5 separate regions of the Homo sapiens genome follow, and regions 2, 3, 4 and 5 are each linked to region 1. The links come from fine-mapping of genetic effects on gene expression. A gene starts in region 1. Each other region holds a variant in brackets. All regions are shown on one strand. Distances are between the middles of the regions.

Region 1 (5,171 bases):
ATAGATGGGCCAGGCATGGTGGTACATGCCTATAATCCCAGCACTTTGGGAGGCTGAGGCCAAAGGATCTCTTGGGCCCAGGAATTCAAGACCCGCCTGGGCAACATAGTGAGATCTCGTCTCCACAAAATAACTTTGTTTTAAAAGTTAACCTGACATGGTGGTGCGCACCTGTGGTCCTGGCTATGCGGGAGGCTGAGGTGGGAGGATCACTTGAGCCCAGGAGGTTGAGGCTACATTGAGCTATGATTGTGTCACTGCACTCCAGCCTGGGTGACAAAGTGAAACCCTGTCAAAAAAAAAAAAATTAAAAACGTCTGTTCAAAAATTATTTTAAAAATATGTGGAGATGGCTGGGCGCTGTGGCTTACGCCTGTAATCCCAACACTTTGGGAGGCCGAGGAGGGTGGATCACGAGGTCAAGAGATAGAGATCATCCTGGCCAACATGGTGAAACCCCGTCTCTACTGAAAAATACAAAAATTAGCTGAGCATGGTGGCACACGCCTGTAGTCCCAGCTACTCGGGAGGCTGAGGCAGGAGAATTCCTTGAACCTGGGAGGCGGAGGTTGCAGTGAGCTGAGATCATGCCAATGCACTCCAGCCTGGTGACAGAGCAAGACTCCATCTCAAAAAAAAAAAAAAAAAAAAAAAAAATATATATATATATATATATATATATATATATATATGGAGAAAAAGAAAAAGAAAAAAGAGAAAACTCATATATATGTATATATATATATATGGAAAGATATTTTATGGTTTTTTTTTTTGAGAGGGAGTTTTGCTCTTGTTGCCCAGGCTGGAATGCAATGGCTGATCTCAGCTCACTGCAGCCTCCGCCTCCCAGGTTCAAGCGATCCTCCTGCCTCAGCCTCCCAAGTAGCTGGGATTACACACCCGGCTAATTTTTGTATTTTTAGTAGAGACGGGGTTTCACCATGTTGGTCAGGCTGGTCTCGAGCTCCTGACCTCAGGTGATCCACCCGTCTCGGCCTCCCAGTAGTGCTGGGATTACAAGCGTGAGCCACCAGGCCTGGCGAGATAGATTTTTTTTTAAATGTCTCACTCTGTCGCCCAGGCTGGAGTGCAGTGGCATGATCAAGCCTCACTGCAGCCTCACTCTTCCCCGTCCCCTATCCCCATCCCAAGCAATCCTCCTGCCTCAGCCTCCCAGAATGCTGGGACCACTGGCATGAGCCAATACTCTGCCTAGGCAGATACAGATATCTACATTTGTAAATGCATTTTAAATGTCCGGAATGATTTATACCAAACAGTTAATGCTGGTTTTCTAAGAAAACTAGAATTGGGGTGGGAGAGAAAAGAGAAAGGGGTGCATAGCCTTTATGTTAAATACTCCTGTACTGCTTTTGTGGTTTAAAAAGAGAATGGGTTGAATTTCTGACCGTAAATAACTCCTAGTGAACTCAGACAAATAACTTTTTCACAACAGCGTCGACAGATGCCTCCAGCCGGAAGGTAGAGGGTCTCGTTTTAGATCTGCTTTTCACTTGGTGCTTTTAAAATAGAAAGCGCAGACAGAGGCGTGGTGTTTTCGCTCCGAGCTGCAGCAGCGCAGCGCGGCCCGCACAGCCGCAGCCTGAGGCGCCGCTCGGCCCGGGCACCGCTCGGAGGTAGCCGGGGCAGCAGAGGTCCCGGGGTCCGCCTCTCCCAGGGCCGGCCTGGCAAAGGGCGGCGCCTGAGGACCCGGCGGATGCTGGGGGACCCGGGTGGGGAGGGAAAGCGAGCCTGGGCCTCCGGGGCCCGGTGTCGCCCGGAGGAGCGAGCAGGGACGACCCGCTGCACATCTCTGCGTGGCGCCCCGCAGCCACCCTTCAGGAAGGGGGGAATCCCCGGGCCCCCCACTCCGGGAGCGAGAGGATGCTCCGGGGAAGCCGAGGGTCCGGAGCCCGGACCCCTAACCGCGAGAACCCTCTCCTCCAACTCCACAGCCCCGTCCCCTACCTCGGCCCCAGGCTCGGGGGTCAGGAAGAGCGCGAGCTCGCGCGCCCCGCTGCGCATGGGCTCCGGCTGATCAGCGTCCACGAGCAGCATCAGGAGGGCGACGGGGTCCGGCTGGCGGAGGCTGCCTGGGAGCCCGTGGTTGCGCCCGGGCCTCGGAGCCCCGCCCCCGGTCCGCTGCATGCCCCGCGGACCGCCTGGCGGAGGCGGGGCAGGTGCGCTCCCGGCGGTCGCGGCTCGCAGCTCCAGGAGCGCCGGGCCGAGCGGGCAGCGCCACCCAGTGGCGAGCGGCGCGCGCTGCGCCCGCCCCCGCAGCACCTGGGCATCAGTGCTTTGCAAACTCGCTTGCAGATGGCAGTCACCTGGAGCTCTTTTAGAATTTCCCAAGCCTGGACCACACCGTCTCTGGGTTAAGACCTGGGCATCAGGATCTTTTGATGTTTGTTAGGTGGTTCCAACCAGATTGTTGACCCAAAGCTAAATTTGAGAACTATTGGGGCAAGCCACCCCTCCCCATCGGAATCCCGGTAGAGTACAGGCTCCCGGCCCCGGACCCGGCCGTAAAATAGAATCCCCGGGAAGCTTTTAAAAGCCCGGAAGCCAGGCCTCGCACCAGGCCGATTAAGTTGGAATCCTTCGGAGTGGGGCTTGGGCATCGGTAGTTTCTAAAACTCCCCGGGTGATTCTAACGGGCGTCCGGGTTAGAGAGGCGCTAGCTTAGAGGAAGCCCAAAGCCGCCCGCCCCCCACCCGTTCCCATCCTACTAAAGCATCTAGTTTGCATCGGGCGGAGGGTCCTGGAATTTAGGGAAGGCCGAGTGTGACGGTCCTCGTCTTCCTCTTCGGTGCGGATTTTAAAATAAACTTCACCAGGAAACTATTGAGCGCACTACATTTCACAACCGCACCCACTCCCTCCATGCCCTCGGAGGCCGGCCTAGATAGACCCTTTACAAGCCTTGGGGCTGAAGAGAGCGAGGTGCGCCTCATCTCCCACCCCAACAGTGCTAATGAGGAAAGTACTAAAAGGCAAATAGGTATAAGACAAGTCTGAAGTTTTGATTTTTCGTTTGATGACTTATTTTTATTTTTAATTAATTAATTTTTTTTTTTTGGAGACGGAGTCTCGCTCTGTCGCCCAGGCTGGAGTGCAGTGGTGCGATTTCGGCTCACTGTAACTTCCACATTCCGGGTTCAAGCAATTCTCCCCCTCCCTCAGCCTCCCGAGTAGCTGGGATTACAGGCGCCTGTCACCACGCCCGACTAATTCTAATTTTTGTATTTTTTAGTAGAGACGGGGTTTCGCCATGTTGGCCAGGCTGCTCTCGAACTCCTGACCTCAGGTGAGCCACCTGCCTCGGCCTCCCAAAGTGCTAGGATTACAGGCGTGGGCCAGCGCCCCCTGCCTGCTGACTTTTCTTTAAATGTTAAATCGCCTCACAAAAAAAAAAAAAAAAAAAGGCTGAGCTGCTTGGGCAAACATAAGGAGACTCCATCTCTCTAAAAGAAAAAAAAAAATTAAAATTGCAGGATGTGGTGGGGCACAACTGTAGTCCTAGCTACTGGAGAGGCAGATGCAGGAGGATTGTTTGAGGCCAGGAGTTCAAGGCTACCGCGAGTTATGATCGCACCACTGCACTCCAGCCTGTGTGACACAGTGAAACTCTGTCTTTTGTTGTTGTTGTTGTTTTTTAAAAAGGAGGGGCTGGTATCAAGGGTGCAAATAAATATATAGGACGTCCCACACCTTCCTCTCCATTAAATCTGAATTTATATTGTAGTTGGCCACCCTAGGTAGGGGCCTAAACAACACATGTTTGACCTGCCTTTTGTGTAGTCCATCACTGCACAATTCCCACTTCCAAATCTGTCCACTGCTAATTTCTCCCTATCCAAATATCCAGGCCTTCAGGCCAGTCATTTTCTGGAAAATTCTTGGCAAAGACTTGGGCCTCAAGTGCTTAAGGGTTTTATAGGAACTCACTGAGCCCACACTCGGCCATTCGTCATTGTCATGATTTCCCTGATGCTCTGAGCCCTCCTCGCCATCCCCTGGGAGCCGGTCTCAGACCCTTGCCCTTGCCTGCTGGCTAGGCATCTCCCACAAAGAGCCCAGGACTGGCCTCAGATCACCAAATTGACCTGAGCACAGCAAACTTCTCCTGGTGGATAAATCTCAGAAACATAAAGCTAAGGAAGAAAAGTCGTGTTGCAGAAGGCTCTGTAGGGCACTGTGCCATTAGCACAGTTTTTAAAACACGCAGAACCACACTGTATATTGTTTATGGACACCGACAGATGGAGCAAAAGTACAAAGCTGTGCATGGGAACGACGTACCCCATGTTCCAAAAGTGGTTACTTTAGGGCGGGGGAGAAGAAACTGGAGAGGGGTATGGGAGGGAGGGATTTCTTTTTCTTTTCTTTCTTTCTTTCTTTTTTTTGTTTTTTGACAGAGTCTTGCTTTGTTGCCCAGGCTGGAGTGCAGTGGCACAATCTCGGCTCACTGCAAGCTCTGCCTCCCGGGTTCAAGCGATTCTCCTACCTCAGCCTCCCCAGTAGCTGGGATTACAGGAACAAGCACCACCAAGCCTGGCTAATTTTTGTATTTTTAGTAGAGACAGGGTTTCAACATGTTGGCCAGGCCAGTCTCCAATTCCTGGTTTCAAGTGACCCACCAGTCTCGGCCTCCCAAAGTGCTGGGATTACAGGAGTGAGGCACTGCACCCAGCCCAAGAGGGATTTAATATATATATATTTTTTGAGACAGAGTCTCGCTCTGTCGCCCAGGCTGGAGTGCAGTGGCACGATCTCAGCTCACTGCAACCTCTACCTTCCAGGTTCAAGTGATCCTCCTGCCTCAGCCTCCTAAGTAGCTGGGATTACAAGCACATGCCACTACGCCTAATATTTTTTTTTTTTTTGAGACGGAGTCTCTGTAGCCCGGGCTGGTGTGCAGTGGCGCAATCTCGGCTCACTGCAACCTCCTTCTCCAGGGTTCAAGTGATTCTCCTGCCTCAGCCTCCCAAGTAGCTGGAATTACAGGTGCCCACCACCACGCCTGGCTAATTTTTGCATTTTTAGTAGAGACGGGGTTTCACCATGTTGGCCAGGCCGGTCTCGAACTCCCGACCTCAGGTGATCTGCCCGCCTCAGCCTCCCAAAGTGCTGGGATTACAGGCATGAGCCACCGCACCCAGCTACGC
Region 2 (5,171 bases), 82 kb before region 1:
TAAAAAATTAACATTAGCTTTCTCCTTTTTCTTCTTTTTTGAGATAGGGTCTCGCTCTGTTGCCCAGGCTGGAGTGCAGTGGCACGATCTTGGCTTGCTGCAACCTCCACCTCCCAGATTCGAGCGATTCTCCTGCCTCAGCCTCCCGAGTAGGTGGGATTACAGGGGTGCACCACAGCACCTGGCTAATTTTTGTATTTTTAGTAGAGATGAGGTTTCACTATGTTGGCCAGGCTGGTCTCGAATTCCTGACCTCAAGTGATCTGCCCACCTTGGCCTCCCAAAGTGCTGGGATTACAGGCGTGAGCCACCTCACCCGGCCAACTTTCCATCCAACGTGTGCTCTCCCTGAGCACACTGGGGCATGCAGAGTGTCCAAGCTCCCTTCGATAAAAACAGTCCCAGCCAATACAACACAGCCATGGGAATGATCTACAGTGACACAGCAACAGTGACACCTCCCAAGGTAACATCAAGCCGGTGAGGCCAGAGACAAGAGATGACACACCGTAGGTACACATCCCGTGTGTCCTCTCTTTATACAGAGCACAGAAACAAGAAACTCCAGTCCATATGGTTAGATGTCAGTATGCTGTCAGCCTGGGGTGGGGGTGGGTATGGGCATGGACCAGAAGCGGGCATGAGGGGGCTGCTCAGTGCTGATAATGTTGGTTGCTCAGTCTGGTGAGGCTTAAATAGATACACTCAGTTTGTGAAAAATTTAGTGAACCACTTAGGCACCCCTTTCTGTAATATAAATTATACTTCAATAAAGGTTTGTGCCAACACTACATTTTGGGAGGCCGAAACAGGAGGGTCCCCTGAGCCCAGAAGTTCAAGACCAGCCTGAACAACATAGGGAGACCCTGTCTCTACAAAAAATAAAACAAATTTGAAAAGTTGCCAGGCATGGTGGTGCACATTTGTGGTCCCAGCTACTTGGGAGGCTGAGGCAGGAGGATCACTTGAGCCCAGGAGCTTGAGGTTTCAGGGAGCCATGATCACACCACTGCACTCCAGGCTGGGTGACAGGTGTCTCATTTAAAGAAAAAAAAAATTGTAAAAGTCACCTCAATAAAAAAATGCTGACCGGGCATGGTGGCTCACACCTGTAATCCCAGCACCTTGGGAGGCCAAAGTAGGAGGATCACCTGAGGTCAGGAGTTCGAGACCAGCCTGACCAACATGGCGAAACCCCGTCTCTACTAAAAATACAAAAATTAGCTGGGCGTGGTGGTGTGCTCCCGTAATCCCAGCTTCCTGGGAGGCTGAGGCAGGAAAATAGCTTGAACTCGGGAGGCGGAGGTTGCAGTGAGCTGAGATCATGCCACCGCACTACAGCCTGGGTGACAGAGTGAGACTCCATCTCGAAAAAAAAGAAAAGAGAATAAAAATGCTGACTTTTCCAGAAACAAGGGGTCTACCTATATCTCTGAATTCCAAAAATTGTCTAAACTATTTCCCTGCTTTTCTGTTTTTAATTTTTAAAAACATTTTTAGCCAAGATCTCACTTGGTTACCCAGGCTAGAGTGCAGTGGCACAATCATGGCTCACTGCAGCCTCAACCTCCCAGGCTCAAGCAATCCTCCCACCTCAGCCTCCCAAGTAGCTGGGACCACAGATGTGCACCAGCACGCCAGGCTAATTTTTGTATTTTTGGTAGAGATATGGTCTCATTATGTTGCCCAGGCTGGTCTCAAACTCCTGGGCGATCTGCCTGCCTCGGCCTCCCAAAGTGCTGGGATCACAGACATGAGCCGCTGCACCTGGCCTCTACTCTATCTTGCCAGATTCATTATTTTAGGCTTCCTTGAAAAACTTTTTTGGGGTGTGGGGGACAGGGTCTTGCTCTGTTGCACATGCTAGGGTGCAGTAGAACAATCACGGCTCACTGCAGTCTTGACCCTGTGCATAAGCGACCCTCCTGCCTCAGCCTCCCAAGATGCTGGGATTACAGGCATGAGTCACCTTGCCCAGGCAGATTATCTTGAAATTCTAATGCAGATTTACAGTTCAGTCCTGTATGTGCATAGGGGAATTATGTGTGTGTTCTTGGCTCTTCGAGGAATTCCAGAAATACCCATTGCAGGTTGAAGCCACAGTGAGAAATCCGGAGTGTTAGGACAATAGCAGGAAACTCATCTGCATGGGAAGAAATGTGGGTAAACAAGCCTTTGAAGACCCTGGGGGTCCTAATGACCTCTGCACTCTTGCTGGAAATCCAAAGGCCGGGACTACCCCTCCCTCAGCTGGAGCCTCATCAGCAGGTGCCCAGGATCAGGCCCTCGCAGGTGAGGCACAGGAGGAACCTTCTAGAAAACACTGCACAGGTGAAAAGGAAACTATCACTCCCCGTCATTCTCACACCAGACCAGGGCTGAGCTCTTGACACCTTTATTGGAAGGATCCTCAAGGCTGTGGGCACCGAGGTCTGGAGGCAACAGAAGCAGCATCCACCCACCCACCACAGTGGCAGAGCACACCCCGTGCAAAAACCCATCACAGAGAGAAGGACCATGGAGCCCCTGCAAAGCCATCATGGAGAGAAGGAAAGTCCCCACTGTCCATCAGCCCCGGCCAGGCCTGGTCCCTCAACCCCTGTAGAACCCCAAGCAGGCCGATGTGGGAGGCATCACCACACGTGGGTTCCAACTGCTTCTCCAAACCCTGTGGTCTCACATGAGGCAGGGAGGAAATTTGAAAATGGCAGCAGCCTGGGCACGGAGGCTCCTGCCCATAATCCCACCACTTTGGAAGGCCAAGGTGGGTGGATCACTTGAGCCCAGGAGTTTGAGATCAGTCTGGACAACATAGTGAGACCCCATCTCGACATTTTTT[T/A]AAATATTTTTAAAATATAAAATAAACAGCAATACAAAGAAAAAACCCCCAAGCTGCAGTGTGTACACAATGTCACTTTCCAGCGTTCCTGATGGGAAGACCACAAAGCTCACAAAGGCCGAGGGCAGGTGCGGGGGTGGTGCTGTGCTTCCCCGGCGTCCACAGGAAAATAGTCCTCCGTCCTATACAGTGTGGGCAGCTCGTACGTCACGGGCACCGGTGCAGGTGACTTCTGGAATGACAAGAAATGAAGCTCTATCAGCGATTTGGATCCACTTGTTCCATGACCCAGGAATTCCCGGTCTACAAGTTCATCCTGCAGGACTCACACATATGACCAAAGACTCTGAGCTCCTCTGACAGCACTGCCTGTGACAGCCAAAGCCGGCCACCCAAAGGGACCAAGGCATCCATGTCAGGCCCTCTCCACAATGGAATACTCTGTAGGCATCAAGAAGAGCCAGGCAGCCCAGGCGCAGTGGCTCATGACTGTAATCCCAGCACTTTGGGAGGCCAAGGCAGGCGGATCACTTGAGGTCAAGAGTTTGAGGCCAGCCTGGCCAACACAGTCAAAGCCTGTCTCTACTAAAAATACAGAAATTAGCCGGGCATGGTAGCGCGCACCTGTAATCCCAGCTACTTGGGAGGCGGAGGCAGGAGAATCACTTGAACCCGGGAGGCGGAGGTTGCAGCGAGCTGGGATTGTGCCACTGCACTCCACCTAGAAAACAGAGTGAGACAATGTCTCGGGGAAGAAAAAAGAAAAAGCCAGGCAGATCAATATGTTCTGGCAGAGGAGGACTAAGAAAGCAAGGTGAGAAGGGTAGACATGTGACAAAGGGACCTATACCGACACGTGACAGCTCTGCAGGGCCATCTCAGAGCCTGGGTACAGTGGCTGTGGTTGGTGGCATGACTGATTTTTTTTTTTCTTTTGAGACGGAGTCTCGCTCTGTCACCCAGCCTGGAGTACAGTGGTGCCATCTTGGCTCACTGCAACATTCACCTCCTGGGTTCAAGCAATTCTCCTGCCTCAGTCTCCTGAGTTAACCGGGATTATAGGCGTGCACCACCACGCCCGGCTAATTTTTTTTCTTTTTTTTTTTTTTTTTTTTAGTAGAGATGAGGTTTTGCCATGTTGGTCAGGCTAGTCTCAAATTCCTGGCCTCCGGTGACTCGCCCGCCTCGGCCTCCCAAAGTGCTAGGATGACAGGCGTGAGCCACCGCGCCCGGCCAGGACTGATTTTTCTTCCACTGTGTACCCATCTGTGCTGCCTGGAGTTCCTGCCATAGGCATGTGCTACTCTTTCAAAAAACAAAACCATTTTAAGAAGTGCTTCCTCGTTTCTGGTGAGGATTTTTGTGGAGGGAGGCGGAGAAGGGGAGATTTCCCATCGAGCCGCTCACTGTGCGCTGGCTGGCGGGCTCCTGCAGGCTGCTGAGCATCTCCAGGAAAAACCAGGTCACCAAGAACCACCTGGAATGACGGCTGTCAAACCTGGCCATGCGCTGGAATCTCCTGGGAGTTTTATGAACTACTGATGCCCGGGGCCCACGCCAGGGGGTCAGATGTCTCTACTCGGGGGCGTGGCCTGGGTGTGGGACATTTCACAGCTCCCAGGTGATTCTCATGCAGAGTCCAGGTTGTAAGGACCACGGCCTGCACCAGAAGAAGGAGAGGGCTCCCGGGCTACTGCTCCTGGTTGGAGCCGGTGGAGATGAGCAAGGATGCATGGTCAAGGAGGACAGAGGGAGGGGACCTTCTCACCACCCCCTAACCCTGTCCCCCAGCTCCCTGCACTGTCTCGTCTCCTGGCCACCTCTGCCCACTCTGGCTGAGACCCAGTTCTGGCTACAGCTGAAAGCTGCGTGTCAGTACAGGGATGTGGGCTCCAGACTATGGCCAATGACAGCTTCCCCACTGCCAGACACCTCTGCAGGCCCCTCCCCATGCTGCCTGCTCCCCTTCCCTCCCCTCCCCCTGCACTTGACACCATGACCCCAGTGCAGAGGGGGAGATCAAGACTCAGGAGTTGCCCTGCCCCAAGTCACACATCCTCCAAGCATCTGTCCACCAGCCGGCAACTCACAGTGCACCAGGCCAGCCCTGTCCTGTGCACTGAGGACACAGCTGTGAACAAGACAACCATCCCAGCCCTCATGGGGCATGGCACTTAGTGGGGACACAAATGAACCAGGAGAAACAATGCCACCCTATGATGCGGGCTGATGGCAGGACAGGCACAAAGGCCTGGGGAACCCAGATGGGGCCTCAGCTCATCCTAGAGGGTTGGGGGAGTTTCCGGGTGCTGAGCCGTGTAGGACCTTCACA
Region 3 (5,000 bases), 32 kb before region 1:
GCCAAGATCAAGCCATTGCACTCCAGCCTGGGTGACAGAGTGAAACTCCATCTCAAAAAAGAAAAAAAATAAAATTCTGGGGAGCAACTGAATCTCCTGGGGGAAGCCTTTCAAATGCTGATTCCCAGCCTCTCCTAGTTTGAGAATCCGCACTTTCAGCCAACAGTCTGAGGCAACGTTGGAATAGGAATCTGGGGACCACTGTTAGAGAAACACCAGTGGGCACAGCAGGAGCTGGACTAAGGAGTCAGGCTAGTGTTTAAATTTAGCTCTACCCACCATGAGCTCTGTGACCTTGGGCAACTCACTGCACCTCTCTGAGCCCTCCTTTGCTCACTGGGACAGTGGTGCAAGACGATGGTCCTTCTTTCGCTGGGATACTGAGGATGAGCTGTTTAGCACAATGCTGGCGTGGAGTGTGGAGGCGGCTTCTGATGTGCCCCCCGTGGTCTCACCCTCCTGGTATCCTCACCCTCATGTAATCCCCTCCCCAAGATTTTGGGCTGAGCCTAGTGACTCACTTTTGTTTGTTTTTTGAGACTGAATCTGGCTCTGTTGCCCAGGCTGGAGTGCAGTGGCACAATCTCAGCTCACTGTAACCTCCGCCTCCCAGGTCCAGGCGATTCTCCTGCCTCAGCCTCCCGAGTAGCTGGGACCACAGGCACGCACCACCATGCCTGCGTAGTTTTTGTATTTTAGTAGAGACGGGGTTTCACCACGTTGGCCAGGTTGGTCTTGAACTCCTGACCTCAAGTGATCCACCTGCCTTGGCCTCCCAAAGATCTGGGATTACAGGCATGAGTCAGCACTCCTGGCCCCAGATTTTTATTTAAAATTTTTTTTTGAAAACTATACCTGTTTTTCCTCCTCTTTCTGCCTAAGTACATCAGACTTCTTGTGGTTATCGTGAAAATCTGCTCCCACCACTGTTCAGGATAACATTTCCCCCTTGCCCTCGGTTTCCCGAGACCTTTGCCCCATTGCCCTGTACGTCTAAAACCAAACTCCTCCATGCCTCTCCCCACGCCTAGCCCTCCTCTGGTCACAGCACTGCCATCTCTCTGGGCACCTAGCTCTAGGTGTCCAGTGTCCTCAGGGATACTCGTTTTTCACGCTCTGATCCCACAAGGTCAAAAATCGGCCCTGAGAGGGTGGCATGTGGTGTCAGGCTGCCCAGCCTAAGCCCCTGCTCCACTGTTCTCCACTATGACACCAGGCTGGTCCCCTAGCCTCCCTGGGCCTCGGTTTCCTCATCTCATATTTTGAAAAAAAAAAAAAATTTTTGAAGGCCGGGCACAGTGGCTTACACCTGTAATCCCAGCAGTTCGGGAGGCCAAGGTGGGCAGATCACCTGAGGTGAGGAGTTCAAGACTAGCCACAGCCAAAATGGAGAAACCCTGTCTCTACTAAAAATACAAAAGTTAGCTGGGCATGGTGGCGTGCGCCTGTAGTCCCAGCTACTCGGGAGGCTGAGGCAGGAGAATCGCTTAAACCCGGTAAACAGAGGTTGCAGTGAGCCAAGATGGCGCCACTGCACTCCAGCCCGGGCGACAGTGCAAGACCCTGTCTCTAAAACAAATAAAAATTCAAGTGGGGCTCCCATGAGAAATGGCTGGTTCTAGGACTGAGCTGAGTCTGGAGCATCTTGTAGCACCAGAAAGCAAGAAAGTGTTCCACAAAATAAAGGATGAGATGGGGCTTACCCAAGGGACACAGAAGCCAACCTGCAAGAGTGAAATGGCCAAAGCTGGGACAAGCTGAGCAACAAAAAATTAACATAGTATTAGATCAAAGCTCCAAGTACAAAGTAAATGTGCACAAACCTAATATGTGCAGAGGATTGAATGGGTCTGGAAAGGGGGAAATGGCAAATTCCACTGGAGAAAGCC[G/A]CAGGCACCACCTTATGCAGGCTCACATCCGTGATGCCATGTGGGCATCGGGGACCCTCTGATGGGATGTGATAAGAAGGCTCCTCCTCTGTGGTGATCGTTCCATAAATTCCTATCTCCAGTCTAACCACATGAAAAACATCACAAAAATCGAGGGACCTTCTACGAAACACCTGACCAGCATGTCTCAAAACTGCACAAGTGATGAAAAGCAAGGTAAGACTGAAACTGTCACAGACCGGAATAGACTAAGGAGATGTGACAACCTCGTGCCATGTGGCACCTTAGACTGGATCCTGGAACAGAAAGAGGACACTCATGAGAAACTGGTGACATCAAAACAAAGCGTGGAGTTCAGTGAATAGCAACATACCAATGCTGGTTTCTTCGTTTTTTTTGTTTGTTTGTTTGTTTGTTTTTGGTGGGGGGTCGTGGGTTGTTTTTTGTTTTTTTGTTTTTTTATAGGGTCTTGCTTTGTCACCCAGGCTGGAGTGCAGTGGTGTGATCATGACTTGTTGCAGCCTCGACCTCCTGGGCTCAAACAATTCTCCAGCCTCAGCCTCTTGAATAGCTGGGACTACAGCTGTCCACCACCATGCCCAGCTAATTGTTTATCTTTTGTAGAGACAGGGTTTCACTGTGATGTCCAGGCTGGTCTTGGACTCCTGGCCTCAAGCTATCCTCCTGCCTCAATCCAAAGTGCTGGGTTTACAGGCGTCAGCCATTGTGCCTGGCCCCTTAGTACTGACAAATGTACCATGGTGATGTGAGATGTTAACAATGGAGGCCAGGAGCTCAAGACCAGCCTGGGCAACATAGCGAGGCACCATCTCTATTAAAAAATTAAAAATGTATTTAAAAAAACTTTAGGGTTAATATGGCAACTCTCTGAACAATCTTTGCAATTTTCCTGTAAATCTAAACTATTCCAAAATAAAAAATACATAAATATGGTTTTAAAAATTCAAGTAATTAGGTCTGGATCTACAGCTTCTCTTAAGTCAGCAGCTTTGGCAATGATGGGCCTGAGTCTCCCCGGGCAGCAAAGGCTGGGACTGCTCCCTCCAGATGGGCCTGATCACTGGGGTTTCCACAGTCATCACCCCTCCCCATTGTCTCACCCCAGCTCCACGCTCTGCCTGGCTCCAGCATTTGTTACCAGTGACAGGGAAAGGTCCTCAGTCTCCTCCCTTTCTTCCCCAAGGCCAGATTTCTAGAGAGAAGCTCATTCCTCAACAAGGCTAAACTTGGAGAAAATCACCCTGATGTAGCAAAGAGCAGATAATTAATTCCAGGGCAAGGTCAGAGCACCGGGGAACAAACTTGAATCGTATCCTTCTGTTAATTTCTAAAGAAACAAATCGGGGGAGTGAGAATGAGCTTGGGGGTATGGGCTGGGATTGGCAACCTACAGCAGACAGAGAAAGTGGTAGAAAGGAGACTCAAGGACCACCCTCGCCCCCTAAATCCCAAAGAATTGGGAATAAAGAAGTCTCTTTTTTTCCCCCTTATTTTTGTTTATTTAGTTTTGTTTTTGTTCTTGTTTTTTTGAGACAAGTCTCACTCTCTCTCCCAGGCTGGAGTACAGTGGCACCATCTCTGCTCACTGCAACCTCTGCCTCCTAGGTTCAAGTGATTCTCTTGCCTCAGCCTCCCGAGTAGCTGGGATTACAAGCACCTGCCACCATGCCTGGCTAATTTTTGTATTTTTAGTAGAGATGGGGTTTCACCATGTTGGCCAGGCTGGTCTTGAACTCCTGACCTCAAGTGATCCTCCCACCTTGGCTTCCCAAAGTGCTGGAATTACAGGCATGAGCCACTGCTCCTAGCCTGTTTCTTATTTTATTTTTAGAGAAATCCCTTCTCTGATGCAGCTTCTCCAATGGCTGAAACTGAAGGCAACAGGGAACTGTTTATATCTGCCCAGAGGTTTACCGTAGTTACTCAGAATGAGGGGCCAGGGAAGGCAATCCTAGGGGCTGAAAGGCCCCAAACCTTACCTCTTGGTTCCACCCTGGGCTGGGAACCATAAAAGAAACTTTAGGGCCAGGTGCGGTGGCTCACACCTGTAATCCCAATTCTTTGAGAGGCCGAGGTGAGAGGGTCACTTGAGGCCAGGAGTTCAAGACCAGTCTGGGCAACACAGTGAGGCACCATCTCTATTTTAAAAATTAAAAATTTATTAAAGGAAAAAACAGAACTGTAGGGTTAATGTAGGTCCAGTCTAGAGGGGCACGATACCAACAGAGCACACTCCATGAACTCTCACCATGTGCTGGGAACAGGCCCTGTGAGGCAAGAACTATTTCCTCTTCAACCTTATTTTATGGGAGATAAAACCGAGGCTCAGAGAAACTAAATGAGCTGGCCCAAGGTCACAAAGCTAAAAAGTGGGAGAGGGAGGAGTCTAATCCAGATGGGCCTGAGACCACCCTTCCTAACACCAGAGGTCTACAGATGTCATTCATCGGGCAAAGGCAGTGTCAGCCCAATCATGCCTAAAAAAAACAAAAAAAGTAAAACCAAACCAGATGCCAAGATATCAAAGTCAGGATATTTCCCTTAGAAACCCAGATCTCTGACTTCTTGTGAAAAATCAGGAGACCTGGACACACTGAGCCAAGACCTGGCCACACTGAGCCCATGTTCCACATGGCAACAATCAGCTGGAGCTGAGTGGCAGCTGCCACTTTTGTTAACCCCAGTCCCCATCACTCCCTACAGTCTCCCCAACATGGAATCCATAGCTACCCAGAGGAGCACTTTCTTCTTATGGAGGACTCAAAAGGAAAGTGACACATTTCTCATCTCCAACTCACTTCTCATTACATTACAGGTGTTTACATTTGCACGCCTTGGGCTACGCTCTGAGAAGAGCAAACAGATTTCAGTGAAAAAGCCTCCATGCTCTAGAGCCTCTCCCAGGACAAACACCCAACCAGGTGTGCTAGCCTGGAGGCCCCAGACCCTTCCCCCAACTATCCTCCCACCTCTCCAGACCTGGTCTCCAGAACCCAGAAGTCTGGGCAGCAGGTTCTGAGGTCACCACAGAGGAAAGTCATCTGTCCAGAATGATTCAGGCCCCTAGGAAGGAGAGCCAAAGGCATTTGA
Region 4 (5,000 bases), 24 kb before region 1:
GGTCTCCTTGCGCAGAATGCCCATGTGGATGACGGGATGGGATTTGAAAACAAAGGTGTCCCTGGAGCATCCATCCACACCATCCTCCCGACCTGCCTTCCCTGCCCGCAACCACGATCCTTCACCCAGTGCCCAGCCATACCACATCCCTGGCCTCCCCGCCTTTGCACAGGCTGGTCCCTCTGCCTGAATGCACTCCTTCCCCATCTGTTGAATTCTCTATTTCTCCTTACAGCCCCAGATTCATCACCACCTGTTATACGAAGCCTTCCCAATTTCCTAGGCAGGACTTAGCACCCCTGGCTCTGGAATCCCTTCACACCTTGACCTTACCTTGACAACAGCACTGTAGCATGGGACGGCACCAACTGATACCCAAATCAGTCTCCCCACATACACTGGGGCTTGATGGGAATGGAGATGGACTGAACTCTCTTTGCATACTCAAGTTTATGACGGGGCCCATTCATGAGAAAGTGCCCAATGCAGCCGGGCATGGTGGCTCACGCCTATAATCAATCCCAGCACTTTGGGAGGCCGAGGCGGGAGGATCACTTAAGGCCAGCAGTTCAAGACCAGCCTGGTCAACATGCTGTCTCTACTAAAAATACAAAAATTAGCCAGGCATGGTGGTGCATGCTTGTAATCCCAGCTACTCAGGAGGCTGAGGCAGGAGAATCACTTGAACCCGGGAGGCAGAGGTTGCAGTGAGCCGAGATTGCATCACGGCACTCCAGCCTGGGGGACAGAGCGAGACTCTATCTCGAAAGGAAGGAAGAAAGGAAGGAAGGAAGGGAGGGACGGAGGGAAAGACGGAAAGACAGAAAGACGGAAAGACAGAAAGACAAAGACAGAAAGAGAAAGAAAGAGTCCAATGCGTGGTGGTAAAGAAAGGACAATCCAGGCTGTTAAAAGCCTGTCTTGTTACCTAGCTCCCACCTGGACCCACATCTGAACGTAAAAATTGACTCAAGAGAAGAAACCATATAGGTCCTCTTGGGATTTCTGCTGTGACCCTAGAGGCTGGGCCGAGGTCCGCTGAATAGGTAGGGATGACTCAGTGCCTGCTGTCTAGGGTGGCTTTGTGCCGGGCACAAAGAAAGGCGTTCAATGAACATCTGGGGCTGCTGTTACTGTTACTCCCTTGGGTTCTCACAAACACTCTCAGGGTCCGGACACGGTGCTTCTCAGGGACATAAACGCACACCACTGGGCCCAGGTGGCCAGGCTTCCTCCACTCTGGGGAGACACAGGGCCTGGTCACAATATGGAGCTCTACCCTTTGGGCCTCCAGGCAGACACCTCAAGCCCAGGTTACTGGTTTGCCTCTAATAAGCTTGGGAGCTTCTAGAAAATTCTATCAGCACTCCTGGGGGCTCCACACCTGGCTGGCAGCAATCCTAGGAACACTGGGATCTAGAAGCAATTTCTTTTTCTTTTCTTTTTTTTTTGAGACACAATCTTGATCTATCACCCAGGCTGGAGTGCAGTGGCGCAATCTCAGCTCACTGCAACCTCCACCTTCCGGGTTCAAGCAATTCTCCTGCCTCAGCCTCCTGAGTAGCTAAGATTACAGGCGCCTGCCACCACACCCGGCTAATTTTTGTATTTTTGGTAGAGGCAGGGTTTCACCATGTTGGTCAGGCTGGTCTTGAACTCCTGACCTCAAGTGATCTGCCCGCTTTGGCCTCCCAAAGTGCTGGGATTACAGGTGTGAGCCACTGCACCCAGCCTCTAGAGGCGATTTCTAGAGACTCTGGCGTGGGAGGCTTTGTCTTCTGGGCCATTGTCTTCCATCTTCCTCCTCAGCCAGGCTAGTAGATTTGGGCCAACCAGACAGAGTAGGAGGTAAAAGCAGAGAGAACAGAAGGATTCAGGAAGGAACTCGATGCCCAACTCCACCACGGGCTGTGGCCTGGGCAAGAGGCTCCTCCTAGGCCTCGCAGGCCTGAAGCCATTTCCTGGCTGTCTCCATGTTTGCACAGGGGACGGTGCAGAGCTGAGGAAAGTTAAATATAGTCTAGCGTCCCCGCTGAACGGCTCCCTGCATCGGTGCCCGAGAGTGCCACCTTGTGGTCCACTCCTGGCTCCTCTGCGGAATAAAAACCATCTCGAGGGAAGGACGAGATCAAGATGGCCGCCTCAGGAAGCACTTGGGGTTGAGTGAGAGAGAGAGAGCGAGAGAGAGAGAGAGGAGGGAGTGTTTGCACGTGGCTTTCCTCTCAGCGCTGGCCGCTGCCCCATTCCTCCTGGTTGCTAACTCACCACCAAAATGGCTTCCGCAGAAAACTCCAGCAAGGGCCTGAAGTCTGGCCTGGGCCTAAACCCACGCCTTCCAGGCAGCCACTCACCAGGTCAGCCAGGCTGCAAAACTCTTCCAGCCTGAGGAGCATGCCCTCGATGGTCTCCTCCACCTCCTTCGCCTGAAAAAGAGACGATATCCTGGAGATTAGCAAGTGGTTTCCAGGGAGACAAACACCCTTCATTTTTTTTTTTTTTTTAAAGCAAACTAAGTCTTAGGATTATGTGCCCGGTTCCTGCTCGACCCCCTTCCACTGCCTCCTTTGAAAGAGCAATAAACAGGCAGCAGTCCTGGCGCCCATCACGGAGGACTGGTTAAAGCCACCAC[G/A]GCCTCTCCATTCTATGCAGCTTTCAAAAGAGACAAGATCAACAAATACAGGAAATAACAAAGCTACCCGTATCCTCCACGTTGTACAGATGAGGACACGGAGGCTCAGAGAGGTGGGGTAACCTGCTCAAGATCACACAGTTAACAAACAGCGGGGCAAGGATCCTAATCCAGATGGAGTCCACAACCTCACAGCCTGCTCTAATAAACACAGTGGCCCCGGTGATACCCCGGAGAGGAAAAGCAAGCTGCAGACGGTGTCAGATACAAACCATACCAAAAAAAATGTGTGAGGCGGGCGGATCACCTGAGGTCAGGAGTTTGAGACCAGCCTGACCAACATGGCAGAACCCCGTCTCTACTCAAAATACAAAAATTAGCCGGGCATGGTGGCGTGTGCCTGTAGTCACAGCTACTCCGAGGCTGAGGCAGGAGAATCGCTTGAACCTAGGAGGCGGAGGCTGCAGTGAGCCAAGATTGCACCACTGCACTCTAGCCTGGGCAACAGAGCGAGACTCCGTCTCAAAAAAAAGTACATGTCTTCACAGAGAAAGGCCTGGAATGATATGTGCCAGACTGCTAATAGTTAAGAGATGTGCTTATACTTAAAAAATTTGTTGTTTATCTGAAATTCAAATTCAACCGGGCATCCCATAGTTTCTTTGGAAACCCTATTAACAGGGCTTACTTAGCCCTGGGCAGGAGGAGTTGGGAAAGGGACTCTGACAAGGGAAACTTGAATTTTTTATGTTATGTAAAGGGTCCATGGCCGGGAGCAGTGGCTTATGCCTGTAATCCCAACATTTTGGGAGGCCGAGGCAGGAAGATCACTTAAGTCCAGGAATTCGAGACCAGTCTGGGCAACATGGTGAGACTCCATCCCTTTAAAAAAAAAAAAAAATTAGCCCAGGTGCACTGGCTCACGCCTGTAATCCCAGCACTTTGGGAGGCTGAGGCGGGCAGATCACGAGGTCAGGAGATCGACACCATTCTGGACAATGTGGTGACCCCATCTCTACTAAAAATACAAAAATTAGCCGGGTGTGGTGGCACACACCTGTAGTCCCAGCTACTCAGTAGGCTGAGGCAAGAGAATCGCTTGAACCCGGGAGGCGGAGGCTGCAGTGAGCCAAGGTCACACCACTGCACTCCAGCCTGGGCGACAGAGCGAGATTCCGTCTCAAAAAAAAAAAAAAAAAAAAAAAAAAAAAAATTAGCCAGGCATGGTGGTGCATGTCTGTAGTCCCAGCTACCCAGGAGGCTGAGGCTGCAGTAAGCAGTGATCGCACCACTGCACTCCAGGCTGGGCGACAGAGTGAGAACTTGTCTTTAAAAAAAGAAGAAGAAATAAAACCCAGTCATCAGGCTGGACATTAACATAAATGAGTGAAACAGGCCATCAGGCTTGTGATCTGAGAGGTGCTCATCCAGTCCTCCAGCTGCTGGCCACTAGCTGCCATCAGGAAATGCAGGCCCGGAGCTGCCAGATCTTTCCATTTTCCAAGAGAAGCCAGAAATCCTAATTTGATAGGAAATGCCCCAATGTTTAAACATTGGAACACATTTAAAAAACCCTTTAATGCTTCACAAATTAAGCCAATAACGAACGTGCAGAGGGCCTGCCAGTGTACAACTGCTTCATGCACTTGTGTAAAAATTAGGGAAATAATTAGCGGTTTGGCCAGGCGTAGTGGCTCACGCCTGTAATCCCAACACTTTGGGAGGCCAAGGTGGGCAGATCACCTGAGGTCAGGAGTTCGAGACCAGCCTGACCAACATGGCGAAACCCCGTCTCTACTAAAAATACAAAATTTAACCAGACGTGGTGGCACGCGTCTGTAGTCCCAGCTACTCAGGAGGCTGAGGCAGGAGGACTGCTTGAACCCAGAAGGAGGAGGTTGCGGTGAGCCAAGATTGTGCCACTGTACTCCAGCCTGGGAGACAGAGCAAGATCTGTCTTCAAAAACAAAAAAGAAAAATTAGGTTTTTTTTCCCCCTCAAGTTATCTACTACTTTTATGACTTCTAAAATACCAGTTTCTGTTGTTATTTTTGTAATGGCCAGCATTCAGGAAGAAAGTTCGCCAAGCACATGATCTGCTTTCCCTACCAGGCCACACCGTCCTGCTCCAGGGAGGCGTGCTCAGAGTTTCTGGGCAGGCCTAGTCCCTGCCCCCTGCACCTGAAGGCTCCCTCACCACCCACTTGTCCCCAGAGAACTGTTTATACAGCACCAGTTCCTGCTGCTTCCAGCATGAGCCATCTCCACCACAACAAAATAAACGACTGCACAAAAAAACATCTTTCAGGCTGGAGTATAAATAGTACCAAGTTGCAATTTTAAACTCTGCAACCTTCATCTCACAGCTGGG
Region 5 (5,171 bases), 73 kb after region 1:
CTCCTGAGCTCAAGCGATCCTCCCTCCTCGGTCTCCCAAAATGCTGGCATTACAGGTATGAGCCACTGCATCCAGTTAGAGACTGGACGTTTTTATGTGAAACTTCTTGATTTTTAAATGTTGGCAACTAATCAAACAGGGTACAGTGAGTGAAATGAGTGGAGCAAGTGTGTGTGTGTGTGTGTTGTGTGTGTGCTTGTGTGTGTGCATCCATGCACGTGTACATGCCTTTGCTTAGACAGAGGCATGAGCCACTGTACCCGACCAGGCCTGGAGCTTGGAGTGAAGGAGAAGAATGGCTTAAAATGAGACTGAGGCCAGACATGGTGGCTTACGCCTATAATCCCAGCACTTTTGAGAGGCCGAGGAGGGCAGATCACTTGAGGTCAGGAGTTCGAGACCACCCTGGCCAACATGGTGAAACCCCATCTTTGCTAAAAATACAAAAATTAGCCGAGCGCGGTGGCACACACCTGTAATCCCAGCTTCTTGGGAGGCTGAGGTGGGAGGATTGCTTGAACCCGGGAGGTGGAGGTTGCAGTGAGCCGAGATTGTGCCACTGCACTCCAGCCTGGGTGACAGAGCAAGACTCCATCTCAAAAAAAAAAAAAAAAGAGAGAGAGAGAGACCGACCATGGCCAGATCATGCAGCCTCTTGCAGGCTATGACAAGGACATTGAATTTTATTCTGAGGTCATTGAGAAGCTATCTTGGAACAATTAGAAATAATTTTAAGATCTGTGGCATCTGAATCAGACCTAGATGATGGGAGAAAAGGAAGAGGTGTTCTGGGCAGGAGAATGGCAAGAACAAAGGTTTGAGCAGAGGTTGATCAAGGTGAGGACAGTGAGGCAGGCTGTTCACATGGAGGGATGTAAAGACAGTGGGAAGCCTTGGGAGATGACATTTGAATGGGGAGGCTGGCGCCATTTTATAGAGATCATCGAGGCAAGATCTTTAGTCTCTTCCAGATTTTATCTTGTAGGCCAGAGTGTCCCAAATGTGACTGAGGAAAAGAATTGTCTTGGGTGCTTATTAAAAATGCAGATTCCAAGCGCCTCTTCTGTGATCTCATGTCTGGTAGTCTGGAGCGGGGCCCAGGAAACCTATAATTATTATTATTTTTTGAGACAAGGTCTCACTCTGTCACCCAGGCTGGAGTGCAGTTGCACAATCACTACTCACTACAGTCTCGCCCTCCCAGGTTCAAGCAAGCCTCCTACCTCAGCCTCCTGAGTAGCTAGGACTACAGGTGTGCGCCTCCACACCGGGCTAATATTTTGTATTTTTTGTACAGATGGGGTTTCACCTTCTTGCCTAGGCTGGTCTCAAACCCGTGGGCTCAAGCAATCCACCTGCCTTGGCCTCCCAAAGTGTTAGAATTACAGACGTGAGCCACCACACCTAGCAGGGAACCTGTAATTTGGACTGTCATCCTGGTGATCCTTATCTCAAGCAACTTTAGGAAATACTGATGTAAGTATTCAGGTGTCATCGCAGGTTTTTGACCCGGGAGTCAGAAATTGGTGTGTTAAGACAGATTTGAGGAAAGAGAGCTGCAGGCAGGCCTGCATTTGAAGAGGCCCTTGGAAGAGGAACTTGCACAGAATGTGAAGGTCTGGACTTAGGCTGTGGAAGGGAACTGTATTTGTTTTTTGTGTGTGTTTTGTTTTGTTTTTGAGACAGAGTCTTGCTTTGTCGCACAAGCTGGAGTGCAGTGGCTTGATCTCAGCTCACTGGAACCTCTGCCTCCTGGGTTCAAGCAATTCTTGTGCCTCAGCCTCCTGAGTCGCTGGGATTACAGGCGTGCACCACCGCGCCTGACTAATTTTTGTATTTTTCGTAGAGAGAGTTTCACCATGTTGGCCAGGCTAGTCTCGAACTCCTGACCTCAAGTGATCTGCCTGCCTCGGCCCCGCAAAGTGCTGGGATTACAGACGTGAGCCACTGCGCCTGGCCAGGAAGTGTATTTGTTCACAAAGTACCACACGCTGGGTGGCTTAACACAACACAATTTTGCTGTCTCACAGTTCTGGAGGCCAGAAGTCTGAAATCTATGTATTGGCAAGGTTGGTTCCTTCTGGAGGCTCTGAGGGACAGGCTGTTCCGTGCCTCTCTCCCAGCCTCTGTG[G/T]CTGCCAGCAATCACTAGTGTTCCTTGACTGGCAGCCGAATCACTCTGAGCTCTGCCTCCATCATCACATGCATCACGTGGTGTTCTCTCTGTGTGTGTGTGTCTGTCTGTCTGTCTGTTTCTGTGTCTATTTTTATAAGGGCACCAGCGATTGGATTTAGGACTACTCTAATGACCTAATTTTAATTTTTTTTTTTTTTTTGAGGTGAAGTCTTGCTCTGTCGCCCAGGCTGGAATGCAGTGGCATGATCTCGGCTCACTGCAACCTCCACCTCCTGGGTTCAAGTGATTCTCCTGCCTCAGCCTCCTAAGTAGCTGGGACTGCAGGTGCTTGCTACCACACCCAGCTAAATTTTTGTGCTTTTAGTAGAGATGGGGTTTCGCCATGTTGGCCAGGCTGGTCTCGAACTCCTGACCTCAGGTGACCTACCCACCTTGGCCTCCCAAAGTGCTGGAATTACAGGTGTAAGCCACCATGCCAGGCCTGACCTCATTTTAGTTTTATTACATCTGCAAAGGCCCTATGTCCTAATAAGTTCTCACTCCCAGGTACTGGAGATTAAGACTTTAACCTATCTTTTTGGGGAACACAATTCAGTCTACAACAGGAACATACTGATGGAGTAATAATCAAAATTCTTCTATAATACTGATCACAGTGGCTGGGAACACTGTGCTATGCATTTCACAAGCGTTCCATCCTCACAACTATTTGGTGTTAATACACCATGTTTATATTGTTCAAAAAAAAGAAGAGCAGGCCGGGCACGGTGGCTCACGCCTGCAATCCCAGCACTTTGGGAGGCCAAGGCAGGCGGATCACGAGGTCAGGAGATCTAGACCATCCTGGCTAACACAGTGAAACCCCGTCTCCACTAAAAATACAAAACATTAGCTGGGCGTGGTGGCGGGCGCCTGCAGACCCAGCTACTCGGGAGGCTGAGGCAGGAGAATGGTGTGAACCCAGGAGGTGGAGCTTGTGGTGAGTCGAGATGGTGCCACTGTACTCCAGCCTGGGCAACAGAGCAAGACTCCATCTCAAAAAAAAAAAAAAAAAAAAAAGAAGAGCAGACTGAGTCTTGAAGAGGTGAGGCTTCCTGCTCAGAGCCTTGTCATCAAGGCAGAAACTTGTCCAGAAAGCACAGTTGAGGCAGGAGAAGGAAGAGGAAACAGAATAGTGAAATGCTTGGAGCAAGGACTCTGGAGTCATACTTGGGTTCAAGTCCTGATTCTGCCACTAGGGGAAGTGAGCTGGCCTTCCTGACTCAGTTTCTTCATCTGTAAAATGGGGATAATAATGGTACCTATTCCTTGGATTTTTCATAAGGATCCAATGAGATATTTTTAAGGGGTTTGATATAGTGCCTAGTATTATACATAGTAAGCTCTCAAAAAATTGTCACTATAATTCATATTATTCAACTATTTGGGTGTTTTTTTTTTTTTTTTTTTTTTAGAGACAGTCTCACTCTGTTGCCCAGACAGGAGTGCAGTGGCACAATCACAGCTCACTGCAGCCTTGACTTCCCAGGCCCAAGCGATCCTCTCACCTCAGCCCCCCAAAGTAGCTGGGACCCCAGGCATGTGCCACCATGTCCACCTAATTTTATTTATTTTTTTGTAGAGATGGAGTCTCACTATGTTGCCCAGGCTGGCCTCAGCTCCTGGGTTCAAGCGATCCACCTGCCTCTGCCTCCCACAGTGCTGGGATTACAGGCAGGAGCCACCACACCAGGCTCTTCAACTATTAAGAGACAGAGGAGGAGTGGACAGATAAGCAAAAACCATTGTGGGCATTCACGCAAGGGGAGGAGACTATTATCATCCCCATTTTAACCTTTAAGTTACGTGTCGCCTGAAAATTGAGGAAGAAGAAAAGTCTGAAGGATTTGTTGAAAAGCTCTTTGCCTGGCACTTAATAAATTCTCTTAATGGCTGTCCCGTGACTGGCCAGGACATGTATTTGGAACTTTGGGAAACAAGTCAGTGTAGTGATAGGAATAAAAGGCATATCATGGGCCCCTGCAGAGTGGATATTGAGGAAATGAGGACCATAGTTACAAATGGCAAGGAATCAACCATGGCTGGAGGCAGCCACGAATAGAAACAGAAAAGATGAAGGAGCATTAAAATGTGCAGGTGTTGGCCAGTCGTGGTGGCTCATACCTGTAATCCCAGCACTTTGGGAGGCTGAAGCAAGCAGATCACAAGGTCAGGAGTTCAAGACCAGCCTGGCCAATACAGTGAAACCCCGTCTGTACCAAAAATACAAAAAATTAGCCGGGCATGGTGGCAGGAGCCTGTAATCCCAGCTACTTGGGAGGCTGAGACAGGAGAATTATTTGAACCTGGGAGGTGGAGGTTGCAGTGAGCCAAGATCATGCCCGGGCGACAGTGGGAGACTCCGTCTAAAAAAAAAAAATGTGCAGGTGTTGTTTCTAAAGGTACATGTAGGCTGGGCTTGGTGGCTCATGCTTGTAATCCCAACACTTTGAGAGGCCAAAGTGGGAGGACTCCTTGAGCCTAGAGGTTCGAGACCAGCCTGGGCAACACAGTGAGACCCCATCTTAATTAATAAATAAAAAATTATTTTAAAATTAAAAACAGATAAATAAAATAAAGGTACATATACACTCTCATTTCATCTTTTTTTTTTTTTTTTTGAGATGGAGTCTAACTGTCACCCAGGCTGGAGTGCAGTAGTGCCATGTCGGCTCACTGCAACTCCCGCCTCCTAGGTTAAAGTGATTATTGTGCCTCAGCCTCCTGAGTAGCTGGGATTACAGGCACGTACCACCATGCCTAGCTAATTTTTATATTTTTTGGTAGAGACAGAGTTTCACTATGTTGGCCAGGCTGGTCTCGAACTCTTGACCTCAAGTGATCCGCCCACCTCGGCCTCCCAAAGTGCTGGGATTACAGGCACGAGCCACCACACCCGGCCTCTCATTTCATCTTAAGGTGATGGGCACATATCAGTTTGCTTGTGACTTTCCCAGTTATAGTCCTGAGAGTCCCAAGAAACCTTCCAGTCCCTTGT

Evidence for each region.
Region 2: its variant is fine-mapped to the expression of BCAS4 in whole blood (TOPMed, PIP above 0.99).
Region 3: its variant is fine-mapped to the expression of BCAS4 in whole blood (INTERVAL, PIP above 0.99).
Region 4: its variant is fine-mapped to the expression of BCAS4 in whole blood (TOPMed, PIP above 0.99).
Region 5: its variant is fine-mapped to the expression of BCAS4 in whole blood (INTERVAL, PIP above 0.99).

What each region holds. Positions count from the first base shown.
Region 1 is chr20:50,791,974-50,797,144 of GRCh38, reverse strand. BCAS4 (breast carcinoma amplified sequence 4) reads right to left here and starts at 2,084. Exons shown (of 5, transcript NM_198799.4): 1 at 1,972-2,084. The coding sequence starts at 2,061. RefSeq lists a silencer at 1,532-2,351.
Region 2 is chr20:50,874,386-50,879,556 of GRCh38, reverse strand. BCAS4 (breast carcinoma amplified sequence 4) reads right to left here. Exons shown (of 5, transcript NM_198799.4): 5 at 2,380-3,071. The coding sequence ends at 2,949. It overlaps LOC124904929 (a long non-coding RNA gene), which reads left to right and starts at 3,546. Exons shown (of 2, transcript XR_007067647.1): 1 at 3,546-5,171. RefSeq lists enhancers at 1-177, 2,836-3,416, 3,944-4,655. The variant T/A (reference allele first, on the strand shown) is at 2,840.
Region 3 is chr20:50,824,315-50,829,314 of GRCh38, reverse strand. The region is part of intron 2 of BCAS4 (breast carcinoma amplified sequence 4); the gene reads right to left. Among named protein-coding and RNA genes, the nearest start is that of BCAS4, 32 kb to the right of the region's middle. The variant G/A (reference allele first, on the strand shown) is at 1,890.
Region 4 is chr20:50,815,634-50,820,633 of GRCh38, reverse strand. BCAS4 (breast carcinoma amplified sequence 4) reads right to left here. Exons shown (of 5, transcript NM_198799.4): 2 at 2,352-2,423. Among named protein-coding and RNA genes, the nearest start is that of BCAS4, 23 kb to the right of the region's middle. RefSeq lists enhancers at 1-278, 1,262-1,311, 1,799-1,848, 1,859-1,908. The variant G/A (reference allele first, on the strand shown) is at 2,630.
Region 5 is chr20:50,718,980-50,724,150 of GRCh38, reverse strand. No RefSeq gene overlaps it. Among named protein-coding and RNA genes, the nearest start is that of PARD6B, 10 kb to the left of the region's middle. The variant G/T (reference allele first, on the strand shown) is at 2,132.